Linked DNA regions of Homo sapiens: region 1 is linked to region 2. The links come from fine-mapping of genetic effects on gene expression. A gene starts in region 2. The other region holds a variant in brackets. All regions are shown on one strand. Distances are between the middles of the regions. Region 1 overlaps GSN (gelsolin). Region 2 holds the start of GSN (gelsolin).

Region 1 (10,666 bases), 40 kb after region 2:
GCATAGTATCGCATGCCTGTAATCCCAGCTACTCAGGAGGCTGAGGCAGGAGAATCGCTTGAACCCAGGAGGCAGAGGTTACAGTGAGTCGAGATTGCACCATTGCACTCCAGACTGGACAACAGTGCGAGACTCTGTCTCAAAAAAAAAAAAAAAAAAAGAAAAAAAGAAAGAAAGAAAAGAAAGGAGCAGGGAGGTAGAGCCCTCTGTACCCTCCATCACCAGAAAAAGCTGAAGAGGGGCTGAGTAGGAGGGACAGATGCTGGCCAGGGCACAGGTTTTGAAGCATAAAACTCTTGCCCTGTTTGCTGACTCGTTGAGACAGGGTGCCCAGAAGGGGATAGACTTCCCTGGGGCGTGGGGAGAGCAGGAGGCTCAAGTGAGATGCTCTTGGTGCTAGAAACCGCCCTCCCTCATGCCTGGGGTCTCTCCCTGCCAGGACCCTGCCCCGCTTAGGCTCTGCCCTGTCTCATCCCAGCCCAACAGCATGGTGGTGGAACACCCCGAGTTCCTCAAGGCAGGGAAGGAGCCTGGCCTGCAGATCTGGCGTGTGGAGAAGTTCGATCTGGTGCCCGTGCCCACCAACCTTTATGGAGACTTCTTCACGGGCGACGCCTACGTCATCCTGAAGACAGTGCAGCTGAGGAACGGAAATCTGCAGTATGACCTCCACTACTGGCTGGGTGAGGCTGGCCCTGCCCAGCCCCTGCCCCAGCCCCCATTCTGAACAGTGCAGACCTTTGGGGCATGGTCCCCAGGGAGGGAACTGATTATTGAGCACCTAGTATGTGCTGGGCCCTTGACTGGTGGTTCATGCCCTGAGACGCTAGAGCCAGCCTGGCCAAGTTCACACCCCCACTCTGCCCCTAACCCATGTTCTGTCCTTTGGCAAGTCACTTAGTGTCCCTGTGGAGTGGACATGATGATAGCTCTGCACTACCTCACAGGAATGTTGTGAGCGTTAAACACCTTACTGTGACACTCAGAACTGTGGGTGAATTGGAGACCCTGGACCTCTCCACAACTTCCCTGGCCCAGCTCCAGGCACTCCCCAGTTTGCCCTTGAGTCAGGAGCCCGGAGTCCCTGCCACACCTCTGCCGTGGGATGCTATAAGTTCTGCCCCCTTGCTGAGCCTCAGTTTCCTAATCTGTGAATTGATCTGATGCTCCCAGTCCTGAGTTTACGCTCAGGAGGGCTGAGAATGAACATAAGGGAATGTGACAGAGCTGGGAGGACGCTTAGAGAAAAATGAGGTCCATCGTCCTGTTATACAGATGGATTAACTGAGGCTCACAGAAGGCAAGGGCTTTCTCAGCTTCTACAGCTAGGTCAGGGCAGTGCTGGGGTTCCTCCTCCACCTCCTCTTCCTCAGGGGTCTGGGATACTTCTGGAAAGCCAGGCTCATATTGCTCTGATGTCCCGTAGGCAATGAGTGCAGCCAGGATGAGAGCGGGGCGGCCGCCATCTTTACCGTGCAGCTGGATGACTACCTGAACGGCCGGGCCGTGCAGCACCGTGAGGTCCAGGGCTTCGAGTCGGCCACCTTCCTAGGCTACTTCAAGTCTGGCCTGAAGTACAAGGTGGGTTGGGCCCCACCTTGCTTGAGCGGTAGGGACAGATGCACCAGTAACAGGGCTCACTCAGGCCCATCTATCTTTTGGCCTTGTGATGCAGTGGGCAGACCGATCAGAGGTCAGGCTTTGGAGTCAACCAACATTGTGTTTAAATCCTGGCCTCTTTCTAGCCATGTGAGCTTGGACAAATCACACTGCCTTTCTGAGCCTCTGGTTCCTTATCTTAAAATGGGGAGAAGAAAATTCCCCATAAGTTCATAGTGTTGTCTTCCTAGCCCCAACAGTGAGGAGTGGGCCAGAGGTGAAAATCCAGTTCTTCTTGCAGGCCCTGGGGGGCTTTGGCCTAGTCCTGTTCTGGTACCCCTTAATTCTTAAGGCCTTGCCAACAGAGGGCCCCGTGTTAAGTATTTAATAGGGCATTGTTAGTCACATCCCTCTTTCTGTTCACTAGAATCCCCTTTGAACTTGAACTCTTCAGAGTCTGGATCAAGACAGAGCTCTTTTCCCAAGCTCCTAGCCAGGTGGGGCAGAGCAAGGCCAAACTGGGAGCTCCAAGAGGCTGCACCCTAATATGCTGGTGACTTCCTGCAAGCCACTTGACCTCCTTGAGCCTCCCTTTCCTCTCTGGTTACCTGAGAGCCAGTTGTACCTGCCCTACAGGGCTGGGAGAGGATTTGGTGTGGGGGTGGCTGGGAAATGCCTTGCGTGGGGCTTGGCCATCTGGAAGGGCTATGGAAACACTGTAGTTTTACAAAGCTGGGGTTTTCCTTGGTCAGGATAGAGAAGGGGATCACAGGCTTTCACAGCCAGGTGGGCCTTAATGTCAGAGTCCAAATCTCATTTTACCAGGGGAGAAGGGGAACTGAGACACAGAAAGTCTTAAGCAATTGGCCCAGAGTCACACAGCGAATTGGTGCCAGACCCAGGACTAGAACCCAGATGTTCTGACTCTTAGCATTCTTTCCACTAAACCAACATACCTCTAATGACCAGGGTCCTAGGGTAGGGTCCAAGCCTGTCTGTGCTGCTGATGTGCTGTGTGACCTTAGAGAAGTCACTGTTCCTCTCTGGACCTCAGGATCATCTATGTCAATGGAGTGGTGACCTTGTCTGCCCTGGTGAGGCATAAGAGATTGAATGATGGGAAAGTGCCAGTGAGACTCAGATAGCAATGGGCAGGGTGTGTCCTGGGAACTCACAGTCCAGGGCTGGGCAGGGCTGGGCTGGATTCCCTGGAGCCCCTTGTGCCCTTGCACTGAGCTCCTCCTGCTGAGGTGTCCAGCTCTGCCTTCTTCCCACAGCCCTTTCTGGGGCCTTGATACCTTGCAGAAGGAGAGGTGAGAAGTTTGGGAGCCAGTCCCCTGAGCTGGAGAAGGACCAGGTCTTTTTGCAACTTCTGGAGCAAGAAATGGAACGAACACTTGCCCAGGAATCACAGAGATTGGGATTCAGGTTGGAAGGCTACCTTCTGTAACTGCTGTGAGACTTTGGGCAAGTCTTGTATCTTTGGGCGGGTGTTCTCAATCATCCTCCATTCATCATTCATTCAGCAAATATTTACTGAGCCTCAATAACAGCAGCACCAGCTCATTGTTGCTACACTATGGCAGATATGGTACTGGGAATGTAGGTTATCTCGTTTCAGCCTCACAACTGTCCTGGGAGGTAAGTAATTCCCATTCCATTTTACAGATGAGACTGGAGGCTCAGAGAGGTCACATAACTATATTCAAACCAGGATTGTGTTCCCTTAACTCTGCCAGGCCCTGTGATGGGTGCTGGGGTGCCCAAGTGAAGAAGGTGGGTCCCTGCCCTTGAGAGTGTTCTGAGGAGTTGGGGAGACTGGCAGGCTCACGAAGAGTTAATCCATTGCCTCCAGGTGGGGTGATGTGGGATCCCAGGGAGTGCTCAGCTCTGAGAGGGGTTCAGGGATGAGATAGATGAGTAGGTGTTTGCTAATCTATCTTGTCCTAGTCACTGTTTCTTAGGGCATAACCTGACAGTCTAACATGGTTACAAATATGAGAGTTCTCATATACACAGAAAGGGTGATTTTCCAGGTCAGAGAATGTTGCAGAGCAGGTCATAGGCTCCCGGATTTTTAGGAATAAACAAGGATGATAATAACCCTTACCGTGTGTTAAGCCTTGACTACAAGATCTCATTTAATTCTCACTGTAGCCTTTAGGGTGGATGGTAATGCTCCATTTCATAGACGAGGAAGCTGAGGCTCAGAGGAGCAAACTAACTTGCCTAAGTTCACACAGCTAGTAAAAGGTGCTTGTCATTGAACACTTATCTATTACTTTCTGTGTGTCAGGGACTCTTCTGGGTGCTTTACTCATTTAACTCATTTTACCCTAACAGGTAGGGTATCTGTTAGCACCATTTTATAAATGAGGCTACTAAGGCACAGAGATGTTAAGCAACTTTTCCAAGGTCACACAGCTAGTAAGTGATTGGACTAGTGTGCAAACCCAGGTGTGAAGGGCCTAGCACAGACCTGGTTCAGAGTAGACATTTGGAGGCTCCCTGATCTTTGATCCTCGCTCGGATATGGCCTGGGATCTACTTGGATAGCCAGGTTCCCCGGCCCCCCGATGATTTTCCAGGATGTTCTTGGATCACACTCGAGGAAAGCTCCAGCTGGGCCCAGATTTGGGGCTTCTGTCCTGAAAGGCGCTGGCTCCTGGTGTGAATGGGAGGCCCAGGGCTGGTCTTGTTTACCACCTTCTGTAAGTCCTCAGTCTGCCCCCGCACTTGGCAGGTCCAGCCCAAGGTTCTCGCCCCGGCGCCCTCATCAATTATAGATCCCGGAGGAGCAGGGCTTGTTATGCAAGACTTGTTCCTGTGAAAGCCTCTTCCTCTGAGCCAATTCTGTCCTCGGAGTGTGAGAAGGGGCAGGGAGGGGACAGCAAGCCACTAGAAAGGGCTGACATGGGGCTTGGCCCTCTTGTTCTATGACCCCCAAATCCTTAGATCACTGCCCTGCAAGAGAGTTCAGAATCCCTTGATTCCCCGCCCCTCCTCCTCCCACTCCGCAGACCCCCATTTTTGGACTGAATCCTGGAGACCCCGTGGGGCTGGGTTATTTGAAACCCATTGTTCAAATGGAATCTGGGCTAGGCAGAGACCTAGGAGCCCTTGGACCTGAGGAACACAATTGGGAACCCATAGAATCACTGGAACCTTTCTGTCCTCCCTCTCTCCTATTCCTTAGATAAGGAGCTCTGAGTTTAGAGGGTGGAGGGGCCCAAGCCTGATCAATTCATTTTTCTTTGTTTTAGAAACAGTTTAACTTTTGTTTTCATGTAAATCTTCATTGCTTCTTTTCCCCCTTCTTCTGACTACAAGAGCAATATAAGCTTATTGTAAAATGTCAAACATTACAGAAATATAGGTTCCAGAAAATAAAAGCCCTCCCAACATGATTCTCCCCTTGGAGATATATAGTGGCTAATTTCTTTCTGTCTCTCTGAACGTATATAGGTAGACAGACACATATATATGTAATCACTTTAATTTGGAAAATGGCTTTTAAAACAATTTATCCTGTAGAATTTTGTTCAAATAATTTGATGCCAATCTTGCTCACCTAATGATTAGACCACAGAAAGCAGCAATCAGTGCTAAAGATGATAGTCAAAAACAGGAAAAACTTCAAAAAACTTCTTTCCCCTGCCCTTGTAGATCCACTAATGTCTTCTAAGAGCTTGCTTTAATTTATTTTTGTTAATTAATCTTTCCAATTCTAATTCCCTAGACCAGTAAAATTAGAGGAGTTAATTAATCAGGCAGCTCATGGCTGCAATAATTCAACATCAAGAGTTATGTTATAAGGCCGGGTGCGGTGGCTCACACTTGTAATCCCAACACTTTGGGAGGCCGAGATGGGTGGATCATTTGAGGTCAGGAGTTCAAGACCTGCCTGGCCAACATGGTGAAACCCTGTCTCTACTAAAAATACAAAAATTAGCCGGGCGTGGTGGCGGGTGCCCGTAATCTCAGCGACTCAGGAGGCTGAGGCAGGAGAATCACTTGAATCTGGGAGGCAGAGGTTGCAGTGAGCCGAGATCGTACCACTGCATTCCAGCCTGGGCGATGGAACGAGACTCTGTCTCAAAAAAAAAAGAATTATTTTATAAATAAATACAGAGAATTTTTAAGAAGTGAGATTTATGAC[A/G]TGAAGCAACCCTTTTCCTTTTTAAAAAATAGGGTAAAGATTTTAATAACAAAAATGAAAGGCATACTTCAACAAGTAAAATATTTAGAGGGGTAAAAATTTTTTCTTTCCCCCCATTTCCTTGTCTCCGAGGAATCAATAGAAACAGTGAGTCCTTCTAGCACCTTTTGGAAAAGGTTTGCACATCCACTCTCTCATTATGTCCAGGTGAATGAAGTCCCCTGGTCAGGAGTTCCTAGGCTGACAGTTGAATGAAGCTGGGTCCCTGGAAGGGGGATCTTGGGGATAGAACCCAGCACTGCCGCCCAGCACTGGGCTCTGGACACAATGCTTAATCTCTTTGAATCTCAGTTTCCTTGCCTTTGAAGTGGGAAAATTATTAATAGTTCCTGCATCAGGGGCTTGTGGTCAGGACTTCATTGCATGCACTTAAAGCAGGTGCCCCAGCTTTGGCAAAGCTCGGTAAGTGGCAGCCACTGTGCTTGTTTCAGGTAAGCACAGCTGAGCACAGGTGAGCGCAGGTTGTTGCATTTTCTTCCCTGGCGGTTCTTCCTCACTTGCTCTGGGCAGGCTTGGTTACATCGGTCTCAGAACCCTCCTGTCTTTCTGCGCTTCCCCTGCCTTTCTGCGCTTCCCCTGCATTGCCCTGACCTATGTCCTTTGCACTCTGCCTGGCTCTCCAATCCCAGGCCTCACGGCCATCCAGCCTTCGGACCCCCTCAGTTGTGACTGCAGTTGTGACTGCAGCTGGTCAGTCCCTCACCCCAGAGTCCCAACTCACTCCTTCCTGATGATGGAAAAATTTACTGTCTTGCTTCCCAGTTTTGGGCAGCAAATTCAGGAGCAGAAGTCACAGTCTTACCCCTTGCTCCACACCGAGGTCAGTCATAGTGTGGCCAACCCACAGCTCCCTTGAAGGGGCCCTGGAAGCAGGGTGGAAAGATAGGTTGTTAGCTCTGTGAGCACTGGCCGCCCTGCTAGTCCCAAGGGACTCTTGAAAGGCCTTAGCTGAGACCAAGAAGGGACACCAGGGAGTCCTCCAGCCACTGGCAACCCAAAAACATCCATTACTTGAAAGAGGGCTCTGAATAATGGCTTGTTCCTGCCTCCCATCCTGGATGACTGAGTGATCTTTGCTCTAAGAAAACCTGATATTGGCTGGCACAGTGGCTCATGCCTGTAATTCCAGCACTTTGGGAGGCCAAGGCGGGAGGATCACATGAGGCCAGGAGTTCGAGACCAGCCTGGCCAACATGGTGAAACTTCATCTCTACAAAAAATACAAAAATTAGCTGGGCATGGTGGTGCACATCTGTAATCACAGCTACTTGGGAGGCTAAAGCACAAGAATCGCTGGAACCCAGGAGGTGGAGGCTGCAGTGAATTGAGATTACACCACTGCACTCCAGCCTGGGCAACAGAGCGAGAAAACCTGATATTGAGAGAAGAATGTGGATCTTACAGATTCAGACATGCCTGGGTTTGAATTCTAGCTCCACCACCTTGGGCAAGTCCCGTCACCTGTGGGCCCCATTTTGCACATCAGTGCGATGCAGCAATGACACCTCCCTTGCAGGCGATGCGTGAAGAATGCCCGGCACAGTGGGCATCATCATTTCACAAACACGTATACTGCTGACACAGGAAGACAGAGCAGGAGCCCAATATACACGGACTCCGTTTGTCCCTTGCCCTCCTCGAGTCTGTGCGGCTAGAATTAGACTTAGCACAGTGGGCTGAGGGGCCCTGGATGGGGTGGCTGCATTGCTGGCCTGAGTGGAAGCCCTCTGCTTCCACCCCCATGTGTCTCCGGAGCAGGGAGACGAGCACCCGATTGGGAGGAGGAAACAAGGTTTCCAGCCTTGGCTTGGCCACGCACTTGCTGAGTGCCCTTGAGTAAGTCACTTCACTTCTCTGGGCTTCAGTTTACCGTGGGTAAAGTGGGGTGAAGTAGAAGGACCTTTCCAACTCTGATTTGACAACTCTGGGGCATGGAGCTGGGGACTGCTCACAGGAAAGCCCAGCTGACTTTCCTTGGCTTGCTTCTGAGTGAGGGCAGTTGTGACTGCAGCAGGGAAGCTCTCCTGAACGCCTTGCTCTGGGATGCAGTAATGATTACAGAGGGCTGGGGAGCAGGAGCTTGTGTCTCCACTTCAGAAAGGAGAGGCCTGAGGCTCGGAAAGGGCAAGTGACTTACCCAAAGCCATCCAGCATTGTTGTGGCGGGGCACCTGTCCCTTACCCATAGCTGCTCTGAAGGGACTGCTGGGTGGGAGTTGCTGCGGTACCGTAGGGGAAAGCAGAAGGGTGGCATGGGCTGGAACAATCCAGAAAGACTTCCCAGAGAGCCTTGAAGGATGAGAAAGATTTGGATTAGTACCTCTCAAAGTGGCTTTTGCAAAATACTCAAGCTGGAGGCAGGATATGGTGAAGAAAAGTGGTTCTTGGGCTGGGTTCAGTGACTCACTCCTGTAATCCCAGCACCCAAGGATCTCTTGAGGCCAGGAGTTCAAGACCAGCTTAAACAGCATAGTGAGACCCCATGTCTACAATAAAATAAAATAAAATAAGTAAGCTGGGCACTGTGGCTCATAACTGTAGTCTTAGCCACTCGAGAGGCTGAGATGGGAGGATCATTCAAGTCCAGGAGTTTGAGGTTACAGTGAGCTGTGATTGTACCAATGCACTGCAGCCTGGGACAGAGTGAAACCCTGTTGAAAGGAAGGAAGAGAGAGAGAGAGCGGAAGGAAGGAGAGAGAGAGAGAAAGAGAGAAAGGAAGGAAGGAAAGGAAAGAGAGAGGGAAAGAGAATGAAAGAAAGAAAAAAAGAAAGGAAAGAAAAAAGAAAGAGGGAAAGAAAGAAAAGCAGTTCTTGGTTCAATAAGATAGGGAAATACTGTATAAAACAAAAGGCAAGCAGGTGTATTCACCATAGGATTTGACAGAGCCTTTATTATGCACATGCGCGTTGTATAACAGTCAGGGAGGGTGAGTGAGAAGCATTCCCTATGCTTATTTGACCGTGGAACTCTTTCCTTGCAGAATGTCTTAGGGGACTAGTGTGCCTTTGGGAAACGCCGGTTTTGAGGAAGGAATTGTTGCAGTTTTTTTGATTTAGAAAGTGGCTACAGGGGTCCTTGTTAGTGGAGTATGGGATTCAAAGGGGTGGCAGAAAGATGCAGTGGGCAGGGAATCTCTCACTTCTTAGCTGTGTGGCCTTGGGCAAATTTTATTCCTTTCCTAAACCTCAGTTTCCTACTCTGAAACAGTCTCAAACAAGATAATGGGTATGAAAGTCCTGAGTTAACTGAGAATCACTGTGTTGCTGGAAAGCCCCTGGTCCACAAGCCAGAATTTCCTTTACCTCAATTCTGTCCCCTTCTTCCATATCTGCTTCCCTGGGCCTTCTCCCCTGGGCTAATGCTGTCTCTTTGGCCCCACAGAAAGGAGGTGTGGCATCAGGATTCAAGCACGTGGTACCCAACGAGGTGGTGGTGCAGAGACTCTTCCAGGTCAAAGGGCGGCGTGTGGTCCGTGCCACCGAGGTACCTGTGTCCTGGGAGAGCTTCAACAATGGCGACTGCTTCATCCTGGACCTGGGCAACGTGAGTCCTGCTTTCCTCTTTCCCAGGAGCCACTGAGGTGCTCCTGGTCTGATCAGGGACTTGGGTACATCCACGTGAACAAATGCATAGATGCAGGTGGGCAAACCACAGGGACCAGCATTGTTCACGTACAGATATGTCTGTATGCAAAGACTCCCACAAATGTAGACTCACACCACGGGTATAGTGCGTACTTGGACTTTGATTGACATATAGACTTCCTGGCACCTTCTGTTCATATGTACGTCTTGTGTCCTTTTTCACATGCTTATAAATATATAACAGTCATGGGCAAACACTCTGGGCTTTTGCCCACCAGGTGTGCACATGTGCACCATCATGAATGCCCACACATGTATACTCGGGTATGTTGTTTAAGGTCCCACATGTGTATGTCATACATGTAGTTGCACATGCCCATGATCTATGGCAATGTGTGTGGGATGCCCTTACCCAGGCCCACCTTATAGATGTGTGACGCTTTGTACACACTTGTCTCACAAATCCCTGGAGCGCAGACCTGCAAATGGACACGGCCCTTCTACCCCAAAGCTCATATGCTTATACACCTGTGATATAATGTCCGTGCAAACATGAGCACACACTGATTTAGTGTAAGCTTTTTATTAAAGCGTCATGGGCACACAGAGGAGTGTGTGAATCCTGAGTGTACAGCTTGATGGATTACACAGAGCGAACACACTCACGTAACACTGGATCATGAAGCAGAACCTCACCAGCCCCTAGAAGGCCCCTTTTGCCCCTTTCGGTGCCCTCACCCCAAGGGCAACCATCATCCTGAACTTTCTCAACAGCATAGATGAGTTTTGCCTGTTTCTGAACTTTATAGACACGGAACCTTGTTCTTTTATCTCTGACCTTTTGCTCAACATTACATTTCTGAGATGCATCCGTATTGTTGCATTTAGTTGTAGGTTGTTCATTTTCCTTGCTGTGGAAGATTCAGTTGTGTGGGTGTACCATGATTTATGTATCCTTTATGTTGTTGATGGGCACTTGAGGTGGCTTCTGGTTTGGGGCTATTACAGACAGTGCTACTCTGAACATTCTTGCACAAGTCTTTTGGTGGACATACGAACGTACTTCTGTCAGGTATTTTCCTAGAAGGAGGATTGCTGGGTCATAAGGAAATAGGTATATTCGGCTTTAGTGGCTATGGCCAAATGGTTTTCCAAAATGGTTGTGCCAATTTATATTCCCTTCAGCAGGCAAACATTTTTGCACACATTCTAGATGTAGTTGTACCTGTGAAAAAATTCCTGTCCTCAGACATGCGCTCCCATC
Region 2 (10,722 bases):
AGTGGATGTACCCTGTATCCCTGACACACTGGCTCAAGCTCATTCACCTTAAACACCTCCACGCCCGTACCTAGGGGGTTCCCATGATGACACCAGCCACTGTTGACAGAGCCCTTTATATGCCTGAGGCCTTGACACAGAGAATTCATTTAATTTCCCCATAATTCTTTGAGTGGATATTATCATCAGAGGAAGAAACCAAGGCTCAGAGAGGTTGAGTAACTCAGGGTGTCCTGTCCTTCAAGGCCTCTGAGTACAAAAATAGCACCATCTCCAAGATTTTTTTGGTGTGGGTGTGTTTAAGGGATTTTATGAATTACTTTTTGTTTCTAAAGCACAGCAGTTCACAATCTTTCTGAGAGTAGTTCCACATTTCTTGAACAGCTCCAAATACCTTCCATACAAAGAAACAACGAGCTGTAGTCAACCATTATATGAAGTGTACAGAGAGGGGCCTAACATCAGATCCTAACGTTGTCGAGATGAAATTAAATAATTCTTGATCCTGAGAAGGGAGCATGGAAAAGACCTTACCTTTCCCTTGGCCTTCTTTCACTCTGGCTATAGAAAGAATCTGGGCTTTGGAGACAGACCTGGATTCAAATCCCAGCTCTACCACTCACCTAGCTGTGGAAGCTTAAGCAGATTACTTATCCTTTTTGAGCCTATTTATTTTATTTGTAAAATTGGAGACAAGAATACCTAACTTAGAGGGCAATTGTCAAGCTTAATTGAAATAATAAAGTGACCGGCATAGAGTAAGCACTCAGAATGTGGCAGTTATAATTATGCTTTTAGTTATTATTATGCATGCCACTGTCATAGGGCCAGCTCTGTTAAGCTGTGGAGGAAGAACCTCCAGGCAGTTTTGCTCTTTCCTGAAAAATCTAACCTGGGAGGCTGGCTAGCTGGGAAATCCTCTGCTGTGTAACAGTGAAGTCACTGATGCTTATGCTGTTTAGCATCTTACTGGCATTTATTGGGCATAATTACAGAATCATAGCTGCTAGGAATCCAAGTCTTAGGGCTGAGCTGGCAGTGCTTATATGGAACACAAAGTTTTAAGTTCTCATTAAAATAGTGGGACAAACACATTCCTGCCTGGGGCATTCAGAACATGTCTAGAATAATGGCTCTTGAAATTCAAAGAGCAACCCTCTCTTGAGTCCTCCCGTAGTGTCCCCAATCACTCTATCTGACCAAACCCATCTGTGGTCACTTTCCTCATTCACCAATTCATTAATCCAATAAAAACGTGCTAAACATCTGCTCTGTGCCAAGCACTATTTGACACTGGGATGATGTCGGAAAACCAAGCAAACACATTTTCTCCTTCCACTGAGCTGCCAGTCTAATGAGATATACACATAAATGGACAATCTGAATGCAGTGAGTCGAATGGGGGAAGCCCAGGTTTTGAGCAGTGGTGTGCTGGTAAATGTTAAACGAAAGGCTCTTGGTGGAGGGAGAAGGAAAACCCTGATTTATAGCCTTTCCTGATCTCCATGGTGTAAATATTCCCACCGTGGGGACTGGGCTACCAGCATGATGTCACTGAGTGTGGAGTTGCGAGTAGAAATGCAATTGCACACAATTATACAGTATTTCTACCATATAGATAAATGGTGAAAATAAGAGCACAGATAATAGTGAAATATAGTAAAATAATTATGAAGTACTAAGTTTTGAGAATTTATTACCTCTATTTATGTATTAGTCATTTTCACACTGCTATAAAGACATACCTGAGACTGGGTAATTTATGAAGGAAAGAGGTTTAATTGACTCACAGTCCTACATGGCTGGGAGGCCTCAGGAAACTTACAATCATGGTGGAAAGGGAAGCAGGCAAGTCTTACGTGGTGGCAGGAGAGAGAGTGTGTGAAGGAGGAACTGCCAAACACTCCTAAAAGAATCAGGTCTCGGCTGGGCAAGATGGCTCACGCCTGTAATCCCAGCACTTTGGTAGGCTGAGGCAGGTGGATCACCTGAGGTCGGGAGTTCGAGACCAGCCTGACCAATATGGAGAAACCCCGTCTCTACTAAAAATACAAAATTAGCCGGGCGTTGTTGCGGGTGCCTGTAATCCCAGCTACTAGGAGGCTGAAGCAGCAGAATCGCTTGAACCTGGGAGGTGGAGGTTGCGGTGAACCGAGATTGCGCCATTGCACTCCAGCCTAGGAACGAGAGGGAAACTCCATCTCAAAAAAAAAAAAAAAAAAAAATCAGGTCTCATGAGAACTCACCATCATGAGAACGGCATGGGGGAAACTGCCCCCATGATCCAATCACCTCCCTTCCACCAGATTCCTTCCTTGACACATGGGGATTATGGGGATTACAATTCGAGATGAGATTTGGGTGGGAACACAGAGCCAGACCATATCAATTTATAATTTACTTAATTATAAGTTTATATAGATTGTTATTGAAGGCTGTGCTTAATACAGCCTTAATACAGCTGGGTGTAAGAATGCATGGAAATTTGGCCAGGTGTGATGGCTTACTCCTATAATCCCAGCACTTTCAAAGGCTGAGGTGGGAGGATCTCTTGAGCCCAAAAGTTTAAGACCAGTCTGGTAACATAGAGAGACTTCATCTCTACAAATAACATAAAAATTAGCCAGGCCTGGTGGGATGTACCTGTGGTCCCACCTACTTGGGAGGCTAAGGCAGGAGGATTGCTTGAGCCCAGAGGTCAAGGCTGCAGGAAGCCATGTTTGTGCCACTGACTCCAGCCTGGGTGACAGTGAAATCTTGTCTCAAAAAAATCCACAAAAATTCATGGAAATTGAGCAATCAGTTCGTAAGAAAACAACACTAAACACACTAAATCAGTTCTTAAGAACACAACACTAGCACAACACTAAAGGGGACCGAGGCTGGAGAAAATAACAGTCTCCTTTCCTTCTTCCAGCTCTGTCTTTCTCTGACCTCCACACCTTTGCTTATTCTGTGCTCTTAGCAGAAGATGCTGTTCCCTTCCTCACCTCCACTCTTATTCTTTCCATCCTTTCAAGGCTGACTGAATCCAAGCCGTTGTCTCTGCTTGGCTTCCCCTCCCCTTTTCTCTGGGAAGTGCACCCCCTCCACCCACAGGTTACAGTGGGAGCAGCCAGGTTTGTGCAGTAGGACCCTGTCACTCGGGCCAGAGTTAATTAGATAAAGGGTAGGCATCTGATCCAACTTAGAATGTGGACTACAAACAAAGATTCCAGCTTGCTGCTGGTAAAAGCCATTTTCTGGAAAGCAGAAATGCTTGTGTGATGTGAGCAGACAGGCAGAGATGAAAGATGGGGGAGAGAGTACTTTCTGGGTTCCCTTTAGTACTCAGGTCCTGCTTGTGGTCTGATCCTGAGGCCCAGCTGCACCCCTGCCCTAGTGTTCCATGGGATATTTCAGGATCTCCTGAGAGTGCTCTCTCAAGTAATCCCTTGTATGAAATCCCTGTCTCATCCTCTGCTTCTAGGGACAAACTACAAGGCATTCGATGCTCAACAAATACTTGTGCTGATAACTTCTCTTTCTGAAGCCAGCTCCAGGAGAGGTCTGTAATCAGAAGAGCCCCTGAACCCTGAAGCCTCCTGGGCTGCCCAGCCCAGGCATCTCCTCTGTGAGTTTTGCGACACCCTTCTAGTCATTTAACGAGCCTCATTGGCTTTCTCTGTGAATACGATGGAAGATGGCCACCTCAAAATGGCAGCCTTGGCCTTCAGAGATCATTGGTCCTCACAGACCCAGTTAATTAACCATGATTGTCATGTCTCAACTTCCAGCTCCAAATTCTAATAGTCCAGCTTTTTTCTGCCGTCCACTCCTCATGCTGTCAACTGTGTTGTGGGGGAAGGTTACAGTACAAACCTGGGTGCAAGTGAGGGCCATCCCCTTGGGTGGGAAGAGGCGTTCTCAGAGGAGAGAGCAGGTACCCCCAGATTGTCTAATGCCTGGCCTGTGTGTGGCCTTCATTTCTCCCCAGCCTCACTCTGGGAAGGAGGTGGTCTTCTGGCAAAAGAAGATATCAAAGTTCTTCCATCAGAGGAGATCCTTATCAGCAAGACATTCACTCTGAGGTGAGGATCCAGGACAAACAGGCCTTACCTTACCTAGATCCAATGGGGGGAGAAGTACAAAGAGGTATCTAGAAAGGAATGAAGACAGGATACCAAGAAGACTTCTAGGCATCCATGAAAGGCAGACTTGATATATCCTGCCAGCTATAAAATACACATGTTGAGTCATAAAGCAAAGCACCAGGAGATTTCTAGAAGTGTTCCTAGAGGAGCACTCCCATGTAAGTATTGGTTATCATCATCACAATCATCATCAATCAATCATCATCATCATTATCTTCATTATCATTTCTAATGATTCCTGGTGATACCCTGTTCCCATGTTCCTCTCCAGCCACCAAATGGAGCAATTACAGGGTTATGGGTAGGCATCTGACCCAGCTTAGAATATGGAACCTTAGATCTAGCTTAGAATGTGAACCCTTTTGCTCTCCTGGCCTCAGTTTCTCCATCTCTAAAGGGAGGAGTTGGAGCAGACATTCTCCAATGTTTCCTCCATCGTGATGTGGTATTCTCCAGTTCTATGGGGACACAGATTCAGAGTTCCACCTCCCTTTGTCTGAGAGCAGTTGCTGGGGCTGGAAATGATATGTTAGATAATTCCAAGGCATGTGTATGCCGGGGCTTGTAATCAAAGATTCCAGAGCCAAATAAGCCTGTGTTTTTGCTTTTCTCCCCAGCAGCCTTGCATTGGGCCCCAGGCAGCCTCTGGAGAAAGCAGAGAGTAGCAGAGATGGTGTGAGCCTCCCTGCGGGGTGGATACCTTGCTTGTATTCTCAGAGAAAGTGGAACTGGGCAGAATTTCCCAAGCCAGGAAAGGTGGCAGAGTGTGACATAAGACATTGAGCAAAGAAGCGAGGGCCAAGGACTCAGGCATAGAAGAGTAGACTGCACAGTATCAGTAGTGTGACCTCCAGAGAGTACTTAACCCTTTCTGTGGGCTTGGCCTGCTCATCTGAAAAATACACATGGTAATGCCTCCCTTAGGAGGCCAGGTAGGGAGGTGAGAATTAAAGTCGGTAATACGTGGGAAGCCCAGAGCATGGCATGAGGCATTCAAGAAATGGTTCTTGTATTTACTGGTGTTGAACAAAGAGAGAATGGCAGGAGGAAGAGCCAGGGTGAGATTCCCTGGGTCCTGTGGCTTCCCTGGCTGCTATTCAATGGAAAAACCAGGGAGTGAGCACTGTGCTCTTGGCTTCTGTGCTACTTAAACAACAGCCTTTTCTGCTCTGATCCCCAGCACCCGGCAATTACTGACTCTAGTACATTTTACCTTGTGTTAAGAGGGAGCTTTACCCTGGCTGAACATGGGGCTGCTGCCAGCACCCAGGCTGGGAATGGACATCTCTGTCATGTGGTGCAGTCTCCTGTGGAGTGTGTGAATCCTTCCAAACCGGAGTCACGCGGCAACTCCAAAAGTCCTGGGAACTCATGTGTGCACCAGGACTGCTGGGAGGCCGTCTTATGCCTTGCTGCATTATAAACGGCTATCGTCTCAAATGCATATGAGATGTTGTTGAAATCAACAAAGTATTACATTTGCTTAAAATTGACCTTGCACTCATCTTTCTACCCAATGTGGATTTCCTCAATCTCCTAAAACAGTATCTGCCATGACACTAATAAGAACATCCCTTCCGTTTATGCAGAAGCCACGGTCCCTGTCATTGTGCTGAGAGTCTTTTTCTCACTGAGTCTTCTCAACCGCCCCATGAAGCGGCAATTCAGGATGCCCATTTGACAAACGAGGAAACGGAGACTTAGACATGTGAGCTCGCTTGCCCAAAGTTACAGGACTAGTCGATGTCTGGGGTTCCAAACCAGGCCTTCTGACTCCGAGGCGCCTGCTTAATGGTCCACTTTAAGGACCAGGGATGCACTTGGCATTTTCGTTACTTCATTCGGAATGAGCTGGGAATCGCTCTTCCTCCTTATTCCCTTCCGTGGGAGGGAATCTCCCCTGCTTTGCATGCAGCCTATGTCACTCTTCGAGGGCTTTGCCTCCTGAAGTCCGTTCTCTCCAGGGCTGAAATCTGCCTCCGCTGGTGCTAGTTGAGCATTGCTCGCTTGCCCGTCCCATCTGAGCTCTTTGGCCCCAGCCCAGCTCAGGAGCTGCCCTGGGTCTCCTCCCCGACCCTAGGCCTCTTCAGATCTCCCCTCCGTGCTCCGGGCCTCAGTTTCCTCCAGGGGAAAGCAGAGGGCTTGGTTTGGTGCCTTCCTGCGAGGTGAAGCGAGGGGTCCCCCTGGACGAAGGCGAGCTTGGAGCCACCCGCCCAGCAGCCGACGGGAGGGCCTGGCGCTCCTCCCCCACCCGCCTGCCCGGCCGCCCCGCCCCGAGGGCGGCTCCCGCCCGCGCCCTGCCCACCCCGGCCGCGCGCACCACAACGCCCCCGCCCCGCCGCCCGGAACCAGCTGAGCGCAGCTGGACCCAGCAGCCGCTGTCTCCAGTGCCGCAGCAGCAGGTAGGGGAGGCGCGCGGCCCCGGCCCCGGGCATCTGGGGGTCCCGGGCTGATTTGAGTCCTTCCTCTCCCTTCCTTCCCGGTCCTATCTCGCCCGCGCCTGGAGCTCGGCCCGGCCGCGGGGGCATCGCTGGAAAAGGGCTTCCTCGCTCACTTTTCCCGTCTTCCAAGGGACCAAAGAGTGTGGATGGGAGTTGGGGGATGGGGAGACGCCGGAGCAGGAGAGGAGAGGGGCCAGGCCTCCACCCCGTGATTCCACTGTGCTGCTAGCACCTGAGCTAATAACCTCGACCCCGCCCCCGGGATGGGGGAACTGGCCCGGGGTCACCCCTGCACTTGGGTTGTCTGACCCGGGCATGCAGGGGACCACCAGCTACGGTCTGGGCGGTGACTCTGCTGGGGAGTCCACTCAGAGGACCCTTGCCTCCTGGACGATACCTGTGCCTGCTCTCCTCTCCAGCTGCTTCCTCTTTCTGGGGACTGTTAGAAAGTTCTTCCTTACACTGTCTGAAATCTTCAGGCGCCTGCTACCTGTAGGTGCTGGCTTCTCCCCGGCCCTGCAGTGTTCCCTTCCCTGACTCACACGGAAGCTTCTTCTGGAGTTGAAGACAGTGATTGGAACCCCTTCTCCCTGAGCCCCCATGTCTTCTGGGGTCCAGCCCCCCAGAACCTAAATAACAGCAACTTCCCTCTGGTCCAGTGCAGGCTGGCTGGTCTGGGCAGTGCCCAGGGGGAAGCCCCAGTCCTTGGAAGGCTGGGGGCTGGGGGTGTGGGTGAGCAGGAGACATTGGCTTTCTTCCTAGCTCCTTGTCTGCCCAGACATCTGTCGCTTTATCCTGTCTTCACACCCTCCTCAGAGCATGGAAGGGAGCTTTAAAACACCCAGAACTCATTCTGGGCTGTCCTGAGGGTAATTGGACTTTGTGGAAGGCGGGGCCTCTGGGGAGGTGCCTTTCGCTTTTGTTTGGCATCTGGGGACTTTTCAAACACTTAATCCTGTGTGTCCTGTTCTCCCAGGACCACATTTCTGACCAGGGCACCAGGACCTCTCACCGCTCTGCCGTTTACAGCGACCATAGCTTGCTAGAATCTTACCCCATCTCCATTTCCTCCATTTCACAGTTGAGAAAAGTCAAGGACCCAGAGAGTTTATGATGGGCTAATTGTCACACAGTGAGGCAGGGTAGGGCTGAGACCCAATTCCGGTCTGCCGTTTGCGGACTCCTTGCTGGGAGGGACTCTAGCCTCCTTCTTGGGTGTTCCGTTTACTAAAGGGACAAGCATTCCCTGTACATACACACTTGGGGGTGCTGGTTGGTGTTTCTTGGGGCTGTTAAGGGGGAGAGGCTTGGAAACAGAGGAGGAAGGATGGGGGTGGGAACGGTCGGCTTTCAGCTCCTTTGAAACTCCATTTTTCTTTCTGGGGCCATGCTATTTATAAATGCCAGGGAAATTGTAAACAGCCAGGGGAGCTTGGGTTGGCACTCGGTGAGTTACACAGCAGCAAAGAAGGTTTCTGTGTGAATCAGGGGAGGAAAGTTTACTCCAGAATTTTCCACAGTCCTTTTATTAGGGACTAACATGAGCCTGGAAACAGGCTGCTCCCAGGAGGGGTGGCTGCAGGGTTTGCCCCGCATGGCATTTCCTTCCTCCCCGCCTCCCTCCTTTCAGCACTTCTCTGGGCCTGTGTTCTGTGCCTTGCCCTGCGAGGGGCCAAAGAGCCTTGGAAGAGGACAGAGCTCTCTGTCCTCAAGATGCTTGCCATCTATACTGTTTGACACTTTTGTGCCATATTAAGAGTGACTTCAGCCTGCAAGAGGAGTGACTAATTTTGTCTAGGTGAGCCAGACCTCAGAATGAATAATCATTTACCAGGAGAAACAGGAGTTGGGGGAAAAGACATTCTGGGAAGCAGGAACCACTAGTGCAAAGGCACTGAGATTTTCTGAGCCATCCATGTGGCTAGAGTGGAGGATGGGAGAAGGGCGGGGTGGTGGGAGGTTGAGAATCTAAATGAAAATGGAACTAGATTATAAGCTAAGGGTTTGGACCTCATCCTGAAGGCAATGAAGAGCTGAGAAAGGGTTTTGACAGAGCAGTGATTTTTAAAAACTCGTTATTCTGAATGGCTGATGTAGGGGATGCATTGAACGAGGCTGATCTGGAGGCAGGAAGGCCCTGAGGAGGCTGTTGCATGATTCAAGTGAAGTAGATTGCAGGTCTGAACTAGAGCAGTGGCCACTGGGATGGGTCAGAGCAGCAGATTCTGGAAGCCCAGCTGAAGGTCTCAGAACCTGCTATAAATTTCATCTAAAAGCAGACAACAGGCTAGACCTACTGGAGAAGGTTGCTAAGGTATTCAGCATTGTAACTTTTTTTTCTTTTTCATGAGTTTTAAAACAAACAAAAATTGTTAAAGAATCCCTCCAAGCCCGCCTCTTTCCCCAGAGGTCGCCACTGTTAACAATGGTGTGTGCACTCCTGCCAAACACGTTGATTGGATGCCTTCACTTTTAGCCATCCAGTGACAGTGGGTCACTTTCCCCTACTCCATGTGAATAGTTTGGGTCATTTGTGATGTGGGTCATAGAGATGATTTCTGCTTGGTCTATGGTACGTTGCTGAGACACTGAGCTCTGGTTTTCTTTAAGAAAACTTTTACATCCTGTGTCTGCGGCCTCTGGGTGTGTATATTTGCTTATCAGAGACCACAGGTGTGAGAGAAGTTAGAAGCACTGACTTGGAAATGGACCCCCAGTCTTGGTTCTTTGGGTGACCTTGGGCAAATCCTATCTCTCTGAGCCTCTGGTTCCTCATGTGTAAAATGGAGAGATGTTGGTTTGCATGATAATAATAAAAAGCTATCTTTTAACTGGGCATGGTGGCTCACACCTGCAGTTCCAGCATTTTGGGAGGCCGAGTTGGGTTGATGGCTTAAGCCAGGAGTTTGAGACCAGCCTGGTCAACATGGTGAAACCCTGTCTCTACTGAAAATACGTGCTGGGATGCTCCTGTAATCCTAGCTACTTGGGAGGCTGAGGTATGAGAATTGCTTAAACCCTGGAGACGGAGGTTACAGTAAGCTGAAATCACGCCACTGCACTCCAGCCTGGATGACAGAACAATACTGTCTCAAAACAAAAAAAGAAAAGACAAAAAAAGCTATCTTTTAATATACCAAGCACTGGAACATTAATTACTTTATTGATTCCTTGCAACCATTCCTCTGAGGTAGATACTAGTATCTTCTTTTACAGATGAGGAAACTGAGTCCGAGGCTGAATAACATGCCCCGGGTTGTGTGGCTATTGGGTGATGGTGCAAGGATTCCAGAGGTCTGACGACAGAGCCATAGCTATTAATGACAGCACTAAACATTCTCTTGAAAATTCTTTCTAGTCCTGGTATTAGGAGAACTGGTAAGGGAGTTTGTTATGCTTTTATGAGGGGTGGGTGTCGGTGTGCAGAGCTTGGAGAGCTCAGCCCTGCAGCAGAGAGGCCTGGAGGGGCCTCCCGGGGCTGTTTGTAAACTCATGCTTTCCTGTGCCATCCGCAGGACCCTCAGTGCAGGTCAATCTCCCCTCCATTTCAGGGAATCCAGGCTCCAAAAGGACACAGGACTTGCCCAGCAAGGTCATGTGGTGAGGTGAGAGCCCAGCCAGGACTGGTCCCCCCTTTTCATCAATCAAGCTTATGCTCTGGAAATCTATCTGGCGAAGCCAGGAAAACTGGACACTCTCCTGCTCCTTGGTTATTCCCTGAGAAAATGCCAGCAGAAGCAGAGAAAAGCACGTCCCAGGGGTTATGCATTTTGGGGAGGAAGGGAAAAAAAGAGACCAGTGTTTAGGCAGCCGGGGGATGTTAAGTAAAAATATCTCCTCGCTTTCAACGGAGTGAGCGTGTGTCATATTTCAGCCTGATGTGGTTTGTGAAGTTGGAGACCACAGGCAGGCTCAGTTCCTGCTGCTGGCCAGCTTCCCCTTCCCTCTGTCCCTCCCCTGCCATATGCCTGCTCTCGTCTGCCCTGCCTGGGACCACATCAGCAATTTAAGAATAGGGCAGAGAAAAGCAGTGGGTGTTGTGGGCAAGGGTAGGCAGCTGAAGGCCTGGGCTTGGGTCCTGGCTTTGCCAGTGACAAAGTACTGGGTGACTTGGGCTAATGCATGCCTTTCTCTGGGCCCCAGTGTCC

Evidence for each region.
Region 1: its variant is fine-mapped to the expression of GSN in whole blood (TOPMed, PIP above 0.99). The same link has a PIP of 0.9 or more in monocytes.

What each region holds. Positions count from the first base shown.
Region 1 is chr9:121,301,485-121,312,150 of GRCh38, forward strand. GSN (gelsolin) reads left to right here. Exons shown (of 18, transcript NM_198252.3): 3 at 479-683; 4 at 1,427-1,581; 5 at 9,200-9,361. The coding sequence starts at 488. Among named protein-coding and RNA genes, the nearest start is that of GSN-AS1, 21 kb to the left of the region's middle. The variant A/G (reference allele first, on the strand shown) is at 5,759.
Region 2 is chr9:121,261,685-121,272,406 of GRCh38, forward strand. It overlaps GSN (gelsolin), which reads left to right and starts at 6,478. Exons shown (of 18, transcript NM_198252.3): 1 at 6,478-6,535. RefSeq lists an enhancer at 1-122 and a silencer at 6,366-6,665.